Linked DNA regions of Homo sapiens. The protein of the gene in region 2 interacts with the protein of the main gene of each other region in a biochemical or structural test. Each region holds a gene or a part of one and is shown on either strand. Other genes may lie near its edges.

Region 1 (3,500 bases), on a different chromosome or scaffold from region 2:
TAGCCTCCCAAGTAGCTGGGACTACAGGCACGTGCAACCGCGCCTGGCTAATTTTTGTATTTTCTGTAAAGACGGGGTTTTGTCATGTCATCCAGGATGGTCTCAAACTCCTGAACTCAAGCAATCCACCCACCTTGGGCTCCTGAAGTGCTGGGATTACAGGCCATGAGTCACTGCACCTGGCCAAGTTCTCCGACCAAGTTCTATTTCTTACATACTAATTACTAGGACCTAGAAAAAAGGTCAGGAATCATCTCATTTAACCTTCAAGGTTCAGTCCTTTCCATTCTCAATGTAAAAATAGTATTCTGGTTTAAAACTGGCTGTGTTCATTTTCTATTCCCACTTAATTTTCTCTCCTTATTCCAAAATTATGTTTGTTCCCACACTTCAATCCTCTTTCCCTCATCCCGCATGAATCCCTGTGGTCTTTTCCTCCTTCCTTCAATCACTCCTCATGATACTAACACTTCCTGAAAACCAACTAAATGCCAGACGCGATGGCTCACGCCTGTAATCCCAGCACTTTGGGAAGCTGAGGCAGATGGATCACCTGAGATGAAGAGTTCGAGACCAGCCTGGCCAATATATAAATACACTAGGTGCAGTGGCTCACGTCTGTAATCCCAGTACTTTGGAAGGCCAAGGTCAGGAGTTCAAGACCAGCCAGGCCAATATGGTGAAACCCTGCCTCAACTAAAAATACAAAAATTAGCCAGGCGTGGTGCCGGGTGCCTGTAATCCCAGCTACTCAGGAGGCTGAGGCAGGGGAACCGCTTGAACCCGGGAGGTGGAGGTTGCAATGAGCCAAGATCACAACACTGCAATCCAGCCTGGGCAACAGAGTGAGACTCCGTCACAAAGAAAAAAAAAATTAGGACTCTGGCTCCCAGCCTTTTTTAAAAACTTAGTATACTTGAACATATAAAGATGAACTTAAAGAGATAATAAAGAAATGTAAATAATTGTATGGGAAAAAAACTTGTGATGTTACACTGAGTTTTAATCTTGCAAATAATGCAAAACATTACAGGAACAATAACTCAAAAGATGTTTGACTTACTGATAAAGGTTTGAACATTCCCCTTTGTAATGTGCAGTCATAACTTCTAAGCTAAAAGCCAAAGGTGAAAAAATATTCCCAAGAAAAGCATTCCAAATAAACAAAAAGTTCACTTATATTTCAAGTAGATACAGAATAAAACTATTCAAGAAGTATCTCTTGGCTGGGTGTGGTGGCTCACGCCTGTAATCCCAACACTTTGGGAGGCTGAGGTGGGCAGATCACTTGAGGTCAGGAGTTTGAGACCAGCCTGGCCAACATGGTGAAACCCCGTCTCTACTAAAAATACAAAAAATTAGCCGGTCGTGGTGGAGGGCACCTGTAATCCCAGCTACTCAGGAGGCTGAGGCAGGAGAATTGCTTGACCCGGGAGGCCAAGGTTGCAGTGAGCTGAGATCGTGCCACTGCACTCCAGCCTGGGTGACAGAGCGAGGCTCCGTCTCAATTTTTTAAAAAAAAAAAGTATCTCTTTTTATTTTTGGGGGACAGTCTTGCCCTTTCACCCAGGCTGGTGTGCAATCACACAATCAGGTCTCACTACAGCCTTGACCTCCCGGGCTCAAGCAATCCTCCGGCCTCAGCCTCCTGAGTAGCAGGGACTACAGGCATGCACTGCCACTCCTGGCAAACTATTTTTTAATTTTTATTAGAGATGGGGTCTCACTATGTTGCCCAGGCTGGTCTCAAATTCCTAGACTCAAGTGATCCTCCTGCCCCAGCCTCCCAAAGTACTGGGATTACAGGCATGAACCACCACACCTGGCCAAAAAAAGTACTTTTCATGGCAGATACTTAGGTAGCAAATTAAGCAAGATACAAAACTAGGTACATAATCTGACTTTATGTTACAAAAATGTATGACCACTAATATTAAAATCCACAGAAAAAAAAAAATCAGGACAGAAATACACCAAAATGTTAAAAGTGGTTATCACAGCTACACACTGGGACACATGCCTGTAATCCCAGAACTTTGGGAGGCCAAGGTGAGCAGGTGGCTTGAGCCCAAGAGTTCGAGACCAGCCTGGGTAACATGGCAAAACCCCATCTCTACAAAAAAATTAGCTAGGTGTGGTGGCACACACCTGTGGTCCGAGCTCCTTGGGAGGCTGAGGTGGGAGGATTGCTTGAGCCCAGGAGGTCAAGGCTGTAGTGAGCCATGACCATGCCCTGGGAGGTAGAGTAAGACCCCACCTCTTTAAAAAAGTGGCAAGGCGCGGTGGCTCACACCTGTAATCCCAGCACCTTGGGAGGCCGAGGTGGGCAGATCACCTGAAGTCAAGAGTTCGAGACCAGCCTGGCCAACATGGTGAAACCCCACCTCTACCCAAAATACAAAAATTAGCTGCGTATAATGGCATGCACCTGTAATCCCAGCTACTTGGGAGGCTGAGGCAGAATTGTTTGAACCCGGGAGGCAGAGGTTGCAGTGACCCAAGATTGTGCCACTGCACTCCAGCCTGGGAAACAGGGCAACACTCTCTCCCCCCAAAAAAATAAATAAATAAAATAAAATAAAATAAAAGGGGTTGTCTCCACTAATAAGATTATGAGTGATTTTTTACTTTTCTATATTTTTCCAAATTTCTCATTTAATTATGTCTTGCTCTTATAATCATAAGTTTTTAATAATAATATTTGACTACAGATGTTGTTCCTCTTTGGCCTTCATACCAACCCTAATCCTCAGTATCAATATGTACTTCAAATACAACTCAGGCACTTCAGATGGCTTTGTAAACTGGGTCAATGCTATTCCATCTGAAAGGAAATTACAGAATTATTTTCAATTCAATTATACATCCCTGCAAAATAATTTGAGGGCAGCTTTGAATGCTGTAAGTGAGTTGTGATGCCATCTATATTAATCCTAAAACTTATCTTCAAATTGATTCCCAAAGTCCAACACACTTTTTATTTAATAAATATTTACAGGCCAGGCACGGTGGCTCAAGCCTGTAATCCCAGCACTTTGGGAGGCCAAGGCAGGCGGATCACAAGATCAGGAGATTGAGAACATCTTGACCAACATGGTGAAACCCCGCCTCTACTAAAAATACAAAAATTAGCCAGGCGTGGTGGTGCACGCCTGTAGTCCCAGCTACTCTAGAGGCTGAGGCAGGAGAATCACTTGAATCCAGGAGGCGGAGGTTGAAGTGAACTGAGATTGTGCCACTAGCACTCCAGCCAGGGCGACAAGAGTGAAACTCCATCTCAAAAATAAATAAATAAACAAACAAACAAACAAACAAACAAATAAATTTACAGACTGCCTACTGTCTGTCAAGCAGTATTCTAGGTGCTAGCAATTCCACAGTGAACAAAATAAACAAAAATCTCTGCCTTCATGGAGTTTACATTCTATTAACAAAATTCAATGTCTTATAAAGTCAGGCAGCACACAGTGGGCTCAAAAAAGTACACAACAGGCCAGGTG
Region 2 (3,500 bases):
GTAGGTTTTTTTGTTTGTTTTTTTGAGACGGAGTCTCACTCTGTTGCCCAGCCCAGGCTGGAGTGTAGCGGCACGATCTCGGCTCACTGCAACTTCCGCCTCCCAGATTCAAGCGATTCTCCTGCCCCAGCCTCCCGAGTAGCTGGGATTACAGGCTCGTACCACCACACCCAGCTAATTTTTGTATTTTCAGTAGAGACGGGGTTTCACCTCCAACATGTAGTCTTTTATCCACCCCCCAACCTTTCCCCCTTACTCCCCAAAGTCCATTATATTACTCTTATGCCTTTGTGTCCTCATAGCTTAGCCCCACTTTTAAGTGAGACCATACAATATTTGGTTTTCCATCCCTGAGTTACTTCACTTAGAATAATGGCCTCTAGCTCTAAGTTTCTGCAAAAGACATTATTTCATTCCTTTTTACGGCTGAGTAGTATACCATGGTGTATATATGCCACATTTTTTTTTATCCACTCATTGGTCAATGGTCATTTAGATTGGCTCCATATCTGCAATTGCGAATTGTGCTGCTATAAACATTTGTGGATGTATCTTTTTCATATAATGATTTTTTTTTTTTTGCTTTGAGACACAGTCTCAATCTGTTGCCCAGGCTGGAGTGCAGTGGTACAATCTCAGCTCACTGCAACCTCCACCTCCCAGGTTCAAATGATTCTCCTGCCTCAGCCTCCCCTGTAGCTGGGATTACAGGCACCTGCCACCAGGCCCGGCTAATTTTTGTATTTTAGTAGAGACACGGTTTCACCATGTTGGCCACGCTGGTCTCAAACTCCTGACCTCAGGTGATCCACACGCCTTGGCTTCCCAAAGCGCTGGGATTACAGGCGTGAGCCACCACACCTGGCTGATTTCATTTCCTTTGGGAAGATACCCAGTAGTGGGTTTGCTGGATTGAATGGTAGTTCTGCTTTTCGTTCTTTAAGGAGTTTCCATACTGTTTTCCATAGTGGTTGTACTAATTTACATTCCCACCATCAGTGGAAAAATGTTCCCTTTTCACCACATCCACACCAACATCTATTGTTTTTTTTTTTTACTTATTCATTATGGCCATTCTTACAGGAGTAAGGTAGTGTCTCACTGTAGTTTTAATTTGCATTTCCCTGATGATTAGTGATGTTGTATGTTGTAGTTGCTCCTGGTTTTTTTTGTTTTGTTTTGTTTTTGAGATGGAGTCTCACTCTGTCACCCAGGCTGGAGTGCAGTGGCGCGATCTTGGCTCACTGCAAGCTCTGCCTCCCGGGTTCTCGCCATTCTGCCTAAGCCTCCCGAGTAGCTGGGACTACAGGTGCCTGCCACCAAGCTCGGCTAATTTTTTTTTTTGTATTTTTAGTAGTGACGGGGTTTTACCGTATTAGCCAGGATGGTCTCAATCTCCTGACCTCATGATCCGCCCACCTCGGCCTCCCAAAGTGCTGGGAATACAGGCGTGAGCCACCGCGCCTGGCCAAGTTTTGCTTTTTTGCCCAGACTGGAGTGAAGTGGCATGATCTTGGCTCACTGCAACCTCTGCCCCCCAGGTTCAAGCAATTCTCCTGCCTCAGCCTCCCGAGTAGCTGGGATTACAGGCATGCACCACCACACCTGGCTAAGTTTTGTATTTTTGGTACAGACAGGGTTTCACCGTGTTGGCCAGGCTGGTCTTGAACTCCTGACCTTAGGTGATCTGCCCACCTCGGCCTCTCAAATTGCTGGGATTATAGGCGTGAGCCACTGTGCCCAACCACCTGCCACTTTTTAAATAAAACATTTTGTAATGGTGCCAAGGAAAATTGATCATCTGTTTGTCTAAATATCTAAAGAACTCTGTTTTAAAACACTATCTACAAACACATATAAATAACTTAAAGAATGTAAGACACCTATAATATTATTTCTGCAATAAGTTTATAAACTTCATGAAAGCCATGCTTTTTTTTTTTTTTTTTTTTTTTTTTTTGAGACGGAGTCTCACTCTGTTGCCCAGGCTGGAGTGCAGTGGCGCAATCTCAGCTCACTGCAAGCTCCGCCTCCTGGGTTCACACCATTCTCCTGCCTCAGCCTCCCGAGTAGCTGGGACTACAGGCTCCTGCCACCTCGCCCAGCTAATTTTTTGTATTTTTGGTAGAGACGGGGTTTCACCATGTTAGCCAGGATGGTCTCAATCTCCTGACCTCATGATCCACTCACCTCGGCCTCCCAAAATGCTGGGATTACAGGCTTGAGCCACCGCGCCCGGCCGAAAGCCATGCTTTTTAGGTTTCCATAGTGATTAGCATAATGCCCTCCACAAAAAAGATATACAGTAAGTATTTGAGTTAATTAACATGGACTTTTAAAAGTAGTACAATAAAATTTTCCAGAATGATATAAAAAGTAGGAAAACCCATAAACATTATAACTCAATAGAATATTCACTCATCAACCAATAGTTAACTACAGCTATTAGGTGCCAGACTGTACTTAAAAGTTACACATATTATAACATGTATCTTTGGCTTACTAGAGCTTCAACCTCTATTTTCTTAAATTGTTTTCTGTTCCCACAGCCAACTTATTTTTTATATCATCAGCTGTCTAATCAGGAAGAAATGTGATTTATTTCAATATGAATTTTAAAAATTAAAGAATTTTTATCCCATGTATCTTGTACATTTAAAGAATTGACACTGATGACTACAGTAGAGATATTGACAGAACATTAGCCCTGCATATGCTATGTTTACACAAATAGATTTTTAAAAAACAATTAAGCAAGATGGTCAACATTATTTTAGGTGCAAAATTTCCAATCAAATGGACAGCTCCTGAAGCTGCACTGTATGGTCGGTTTACAATAAAGTCTGATGTCTGGTCATTTGGAATTCTGCAAACAGAACTAGTAACAAAGGGCCGAGTGCCATATCCAGGTAAGCTTGCATTTTATAGCTCTTGGTTATCTCATGAGTGGCTTTATCAGGAGTTTATTAGGAACAGAATTGTAAGCGGGGAAAAGGCCTTTATTTCTTCTCATAGTCCCCCTGCCTCTCCCTCTCCCCACTCCTTCCCTTTACTGTGGCATTGGATGGGTAACTGTGGCATTGGACGGGTAAGTCAGTGAAAGCCACGATCCTTGACAGGGTGAGCACATGAGATAGGCCCCACATTCACCTCAGCTTTCTCAGGACATTTTCCAAAGGGGCCTCTTACTGTTCTCTCAGATAATAAACATATCTTAAATATCCTGGCTCATCCACCCTATACCCTAAATAACTGTTCTTTCCCAGTAGTGTGATTGGTGTTTTGTTTTTTTTTTTTTTTTTTTTTTAAACACAGTCTTGCTCTGTCACCCAGGCTGGAGTGCAGTGGTACAGTCTGGCTCACTGCAACCTGTCTCCCGGGTTCAAGCAATTCTCCTGCCTCAGCCTCCCAAGTAGCTGGGATTACAGGCACCCACCACCACACCCAGCTAATTTTTTGTATTTTTAGTAGAGATGGGGTTTTGCCATGTTGGCTAAGCT
Region 3 (3,500 bases), on a different chromosome or scaffold from region 2:
AGCCACTGCACCTGGCCGACAGCTTCTTGAGTGTGTGTGTTGAAGGTAAATTTTTTGAGATTGAGACTCCTGAGTCTGAAGGAAATTTTAATTTTCACAACTTGATTGGTGGTTTTGTTGGGTCCAGAATTTTAGATTTGAGTTTATTTTTGTAAGATTTTTGGCGGTATTGTTGTGTTTTCTGGCATCCAGATCTGCTCTTGAGAAGTTTGAGGACATTCTGATTCCTAATCATTTTTTATGTGACCTTTTTTCATTCTAGAAGTTTTTAACAACATTTTCTCCTCTTTGTTTGACATTTCATCCCTTAAACTCAGCCATTTAGAAGGCTTCATGGCTAGGCCAGGAGGTGGAGGTTGTAGTGAGCCGAGATCGCACCACTGCACTCCAGCCTGGGCAACAGGGAAACTCTTTGTCTCACCAAAAAAAAAAAAAAAAAAAAGGGTCTAGGTTCCTGGGAAAAGAAATGAGTGTCAGTTCCTATAGATTTTAAGTCATGATGGGAACATCCAGTAGGCTGAGCTCAGCTCACTTGCCTCTTCTCGGCTACCCAAGTTTATAGAGCAAGCCTTTATAACTTCCATAATAGGAGGGGTCCTATCTCATATCAAGCAGGAATTCTATTATGATTGATTTTTAAACCCTGAATGATGAAAGTTTGTTGAAAGACAAACAAATGACCAATGAGGACTACACTTCATAAACAAAATAAAAACTTCATTTTAGGGAGAACCTCTCCTGGGGCCCGTGTAACATAGGAGATTTTTAAAACAGTGACTACAAATTATTTCTAAAGCAACATGGTGTAGGAACTCTTTCTGAAAATTTGGCTTGGCTATTCAGAACTTACTAGTTATGCTGTAAGGCTCATATGTTCACTTCGAAAGTTATTGGACATTACCTGATTTGTAGTTAATATTTAAATAAAGGATCTGGATTTCCTCATCTATAAAATAAGGAATTTTGACTATTAGTGATTTGGACTAGGAACATATTATACATGAGTGTGATATTGAGGAAAAAGAAGGTTGAGAACCTTTGGAATACAAAGGTCAGCAAACTTTTTCTGTAAAGGGTCAGATAGTAAATATTTTAGGCTTTGCAGGGCAGATGAGTTTTGTTGGAAGTGCTGAACTCCGCCGTTTACCTTGAAAGCAGCCATAGACAATATATGCCTGAATTGGAATAGCTGTGTTCCATTAAAAGCTTATTTACATACACGGGTGGTAGCTAAATTTGGGCAGAAACAGGTGGCAGGCCCTACTTGGCCCATGGGCTTTGGTTTGCTGACCCTTAGATTAGATAATTGCTAGAACCCTATCACAAGCTAATAGTCTATGTGGTATCTTATCCAAGTCGAGGATTCTGGAAAAGAAGAAGAAATAGAATGGTAAGTAAAAGTTTGTGTTAACTGTAGATGTCTGATTGCTGCATGATAGAGAATTGTAGAAATCTAGTAGATATCTTCAGTCTTGAAGGAAAATTGATCCCCCTATTAAAATAGAATGTCTTGTACAATGTTTAGGCCTTAGAAGGAGATTTTCCAGGTAAGGAGGTCATTGACCTCTTTCGTTTTGCTCAGTTAATATTTTACCCCTTGGCTTTCATGGATGTGCTGTTCTTCCTTTAAAGTTCTGGACTAATGGGGACACATTTTTTCTTCTTGGTTCTGTTTAATATGACTGCTATGAACTGGAACTTTAAAAAGTATTTGTATTCTAAAGGAAAACAGAGGGAAATGACTCAGAATATATTAAGAATATAAACAGGCTGTACAGGGTTCTTGTGTTAGCTTGCCCTGTAAGATTTTGAGTCATTATTTCACTTAGCATGATGTCTTCAAGATTCATCAGTGTCGTAGCATGTGTCAGAACTTCCTTTTTAAGGCTAAATAATATTCCATTATATATCTATACTATTTTTTTTTAAACCATATATCCTTCAATAGACACTTGAGTTGCTTCCACCTTTTGGTTATTGTAAATAATACTAATAGGAGCTTGAGTATATTAATGTGTCTTCAAGTGCCTGCTTTCAGTTCTTTTGAGTGTATACCCAGAAATGGAATTGCCACGCCAGTCCTTGGATTTAGGGGCCAGTCTTAATCCAGAATGACTTCATTTTAACTAATTACATCTGCATAGATTCTATTTCTAAATAAGGCCACATTCTGAGGTTCTGGTGGACATGCCCTTTTGGGGGATGCTGTGGTATGATAAAAAATGAATATTTTTTTCTGCCCAGGTTCCCTCGGCAGAACTTTGGAAACCCTTTGAATTTACTATCTTTTCTACACTAATGAGATGGCTTATAGCGGGGGTGGGGGCCCTAGATAGCTTTGGGGTGGGGGCTTGTCAGAAAAACTAACCCCATGTTAAGAGGGTTAGAACGTTCAGGCTCAACCCCCAGCCTCCCTCGAGGGGAGGGGCTGGAGATTGGTGGTAATCACCATTAGTCAGTGATTTAATCATCAGGTTTAGGGAGCTTCTGAGTTGGTGAGCACCTCCTCGTGCTGGGAGGGTGGTGCACCCTGACCCTTCAGACTGGCCCTGTGTACCTCTTCATCTGGCTCTTCATTTGTATCCTTTATAATAAACTGTAACAGTAAGTACGGTGTTTTCCTGAGTCCTGTGAATTGTTATAGTAATAGCAATGGGGGGAGGTGTGATAACCCCAGAATTTGTAGACTTCAGCCAGGGAGAAGTGTGAGTAGCCTGGGCACCTCATTGCAGTTGGCATCTGAAGTGGGGCAGCCTTGTGAAACTGAGCCCTTAACCTGTGGGGCCTGCCCGAACTCCAGATGATTAGTATTAGGATTGAATGGAGTTGTTGGTATTGCAGTATGATTGTGCAATTTGGTACAGTCAGCAAGTCAAACTTTTAAAAAATATTGCAAAAGATGGCTGAGTGAAGTGTAATAATACACATGCAGCATTTTAAAAACCAAACTTATTAACTTCTACCCCACCCTCAAATAAACCAGCACGTATATCCATCAATCCACAACTAATCCAGATTCAAAATACTGATGTTTTCATTGACTTCTCCTTCCTTGTTCTATTCAGTTAGTCAACATGCCTTGGAATTTCTAAATTGACAGTTTCTGGTTCATGCATTTGTCTTATTCTCCCTTCTGTTTCTTCACCGTGATGCTAACCACATTTTTTTTTCTTAATGGTTGGTTTGTAGTTACTTTGTTTTACCATTGTTTATGTTTTATCGATTAATTAGTTCTTGCTTCTTGCTACTAGATTACCTTTCCTAAACTGAGGCTGTGTTGCATATGAAGTATAGATTTCTTACGTTGCTTTTCTAGTAATGCCCCAAATCTTTACCACCTTTTCTTTCTGACTACTTCTCTCTATGAGTGTGCTTTCAACTCACCTGAACTCCTTGCTGTGCTCTAGGCTTGTGGAACTCAGCCTCTGTGCTGTTATTTCCCTGGAATGCCCATCTACTTGACAAAAATGTAGTTATTCTCAGCCTTCATCTCAGTTATT
Region 4 (3,106 bases), on a different chromosome or scaffold from region 2:
CGCCACCACACCTGGCTAATTTTTTGTATTTTTAGTAGAGACAGGGTTTCACCATGTTGGCCAGGCTGGTCTCAAACTCCTGACCTCATGATCCACCTGCCTTGGCCTTCCAAAGTGCTGGGATTACAGGCGTGACCCACCGCACCCGGCCAGCTGTTTCACTTTCTTATTATTCATGTTTTCACTGGAGTAACACTTATAATTTCCTTCAAGAACTTTTCCTTTGCATCCACAACTTGGCTATTTAGTGCAAAAGGCCTAGCTTTCAGCCTGTCTTGGCTTTCAACATGCCTTCCCCACTAAGTTTAATCATTTCTAGCTTCTGATTTTAAGTGAGAGATGTGTGACTATTCCTTTCACTTCAACACTTAGAGGCCCCTGTAGGGTTATTAATTGGCCTCATTTCAATATTGTTGTGTCTCAGGGAATAGGGAGGCCCTAAGAGAGGGAAAGACTTGGGGGAACGGCTGGTCGGTGGAGCAGTCAGAACACACACAACGTTTGCTGATTAAGTTTACCGTGTTATATGGGTGCGGTTCATGGCGCCCCGAAACAATTACAATAATATATCAAAGATCACTGATCACAGATCACTATAACACATATAATAACAATGAAAATGCTTGAAATATTGCAAGCAATTACCAAAATGCAATGTAGAGACCCAAAATGGGCACATGCTATTGGAAAAATGGTGCCAACAGATTTGCTTAAAGCAGTGTTGACACAAATCTTCAATTTCTCTGCTTTGCTTTTCTTAACCTATTGCTGTCACATATATGTCCCAAAACCTTCAATTTCTTTAAAAATTCTGCTACCTGTGAAGTGCAATAAATCAAGGCATGCCTGTATACTCTCTCCTGTTATCCTTTCTCCAGCCTCTGCACCCCCCTCAGCCTCAGCCCCTCTGCACCCCTGCCCCTGGCACCTTCCCACACCTGAGCTCTGCGTTGTTACCCTGGGGAAATGCCACCCTTTAGGGAAGTCTCCAACTTATTCAGTCTGTAACTGTCAGAGCATACAGATGGCTCATCTATCTTAGCAGTTACTGCATGTCACTGGTACTTAATTCAGTCAGCCACTCAGCCTTTTGGGGAGCATTTGTTGAGTGCCTACTCTGTGCCAAGGGAGAGCTAATATTGAGCATAAGCACAGGATTCTTGCCTTCAGGGAGCTTACAGTCTAGTGGGGGAGGCAGAGATTAATCAAATAATCACATAAAGAAAGAACACATTAAAGAAGTGCCTGGCACCCTGTAGGCCTTCTGCAGGTACCTGGTGAGTGAACACAGCTGCAATCAGGGCTGTGAAAGATGTACGGAGGGTGGGCACTTCCCTGAGGAGGAGGTGTAAAGGAAAAGCAGGGGTGAACAGGCGAGTGGGGGAGGAAGGGCACTCCAGGTGTGCAGGTCCCTGTGCCAGAAAGAAGAGTGGCCTACAGGAGGACCTAGAGGCCGGTGTGACTGGCGTGCAGTGACAGGAACACAGTTCAAGGTGAGGCTGGAGAGACAGATGGGCCAGGCAAAGCAGGGCCTTTAAGGCCTTCAAAAGTTTTGATACTGGCAGAAGAGCAAAGAGGCACCTATGAAGGCTTTCAGGTAGGGAGTAACTAACCAGCCTGTATTTTGAAATTATGAGCCATGCATTGGAAGGTTCACTGAATCAATGGAGGAGGCCAGTTAGGAGGCTATTGCTAGAGTTAATTGGGTTGGTTCCATCTCCCTACTAAATGGTAAGTGCCCTAGGACAGAACCTGTGCCTGGTACCCTTCTAAAATCACAGAAACACACACACGCACAGAGCCCAGGCTGAGCATGCACAGAAAAGGTACCCCACACGCATGTCTGAAATCAGAGTTACCCAGCAACTTCCAACCCACCAGTTTATGTACACAGGGCCCTGGAGGCCTTGGGAGCAGTGGGTTGGGAAAGGGAGCCAGGCATCCTGCTGATCAGCGTCTCCCATGGTAGAACCCAGGAACAAGGCTCCCATCACTTGCTCTGTTAAGCGTTGTTCATGTTCACAGCCTGCCGGTCCACTCCCTGCTCCTGGCAGGGGTACACTAGGCTCTGTCCCCAGCCTTGAGCAGCAACAGCCAGGTGTGCTGGCCTCTGCCATACCATCCTGGCTCCTCAACGGTCCTGGCGTCGAAGTGGAGGTGATGGGGGATGCCGTACTGGAGGCAAGTCATAATGTCCAGGGATGTGGCTGTTCTTGGGTGAGTCATAGTGGCCGGGGGGTAGGCCCGGAGGCAGAGGGGGCTGGGAGCCCACAGAGTCTCGGTCTGGAAACATGAGGACAAGATAAGAGGGAGTGGCTCCTCCCACCACTCTCCCCACTCCCTCCACTCCCACTGCACTCCTCTCCTCTTCAGCCTCTTCAAGGCAAAGAGAAGCAGATGGGGCCTGGATACATACACCAGTTTACTATCAGCTGGCCGTGCGGCTCCAAGCAAAACTCTCTTAGCTTCTCAGCTGCCAATGGAGAAAGCCACCTCAGCCCGCCCACCTCCCAGGATATGAGGAGACTTTATCACCTGCCTGGCTCCCTACTTTTCTGGGTACCAACTCCACCACTCTGATGCTGTACGACCCCACTTCTATCCTGAGCTCTGCGAAGAAGGTACACCATACTGTTCTCCAGATGAGGACACAGGCTCTGAGAGGCCACGTCGCCTCCCCGTCATGCCTGATTTGAGCCCGAAGCTGACCCCAAAGGCCTCACTCTTGATGCCACATCATGCCTTCTCTTCTCCCTCTGTTCCTTCTGTTTTTCTGCCTCCCTTGTCCCAGTTCTCTGCTGCTCCTGCCAGTGGAGAGGGAGGGCTCACCATGGATCAGGGGGCTGGGCTGCTCGTAGGTGCCACTGTCTCTCTGTGGCTGGGGTTGCCGCCGCCTCTGGCTGTCCCAGAACTGAGGAGGCTGCCTGGGGGGAGATCCTGAGGGAGGGCCTTTCATCTCCATGTAGCTGCTCTCCCGGGGGCCCCCTGGCAAGCTGGGCAGGTCCCGGATGGTGGCATATGGGTTCTCACTGCTCAGGGAAGCCACACTGGCCCCGAGCTCCTCTTCAGAGATGAGCCCTAAGGATAGAGGAAAGAAGTCAGGCCG

Evidence for each region. Proteins that work in one complex are often made in the same cells at the same time.
Region 1: the proteins of YES1 (region 2) and EIF4G3 interact in a surface display test, tested with the Homo sapiens proteins (one large-scale study listed by IntAct).
Region 3: the proteins of YES1 (region 2) and RBM33 interact in a surface display test, tested with the Homo sapiens proteins (one large-scale study listed by IntAct).
Region 4: the proteins of YES1 (region 2) and PEAR1 interact in a surface display test, tested with the Homo sapiens proteins (one large-scale study listed by IntAct).

What each region holds. Positions count from the first base shown.
Region 1 is NC_000001.11:21,166,898-21,170,397, forward strand, and holds part of EIF4G3 (eukaryotic translation initiation factor 4 gamma 3), read right to left. Parts: intron 1,143-3,500; exon of another isoform or gene 1,064-1,142; intron 1-1,063. UniProt on the Homo sapiens protein: Component of the protein complex eIF4F, which is involved in the recognition of the mRNA cap, ATP-dependent unwinding of 5'-terminal secondary structure and recruitment of mRNA to the ribosome. Functional homolog of EIF4G1.
Region 2 is NC_000018.10:732,243-735,742, reverse strand, and holds part of YES1 (tyrosine-protein kinase Yes), read left to right. Parts: intron 1-2,777; coding exon 2,778-2,909; intron 2,910-3,500. UniProt on the Homo sapiens protein: Non-receptor protein tyrosine kinase that is involved in the regulation of cell growth and survival, apoptosis, cell-cell adhesion, cytoskeleton remodeling, and differentiation.
Region 3 is NC_000007.14:155,651,161-155,654,660, forward strand, and holds part of RBM33 (RNA-binding protein 33), read left to right. Parts: intron 1-3,500. UniProt on the Homo sapiens protein: RNA reader protein, which recognizes and binds specific RNAs, thereby regulating RNA metabolic processes, such as mRNA export, mRNA stability and/or translation.
Region 4 is NC_000001.11:156,913,824-156,916,929, reverse strand, and holds the end of PEAR1 (platelet endothelial aggregation receptor 1 isoform 1 precursor), read right to left. Parts: intron 3,079-3,106; coding exon 2,830-3,078; intron 2,284-2,829; coding exon 2,132-2,283; 3' UTR 501-2,131; downstream 1-500.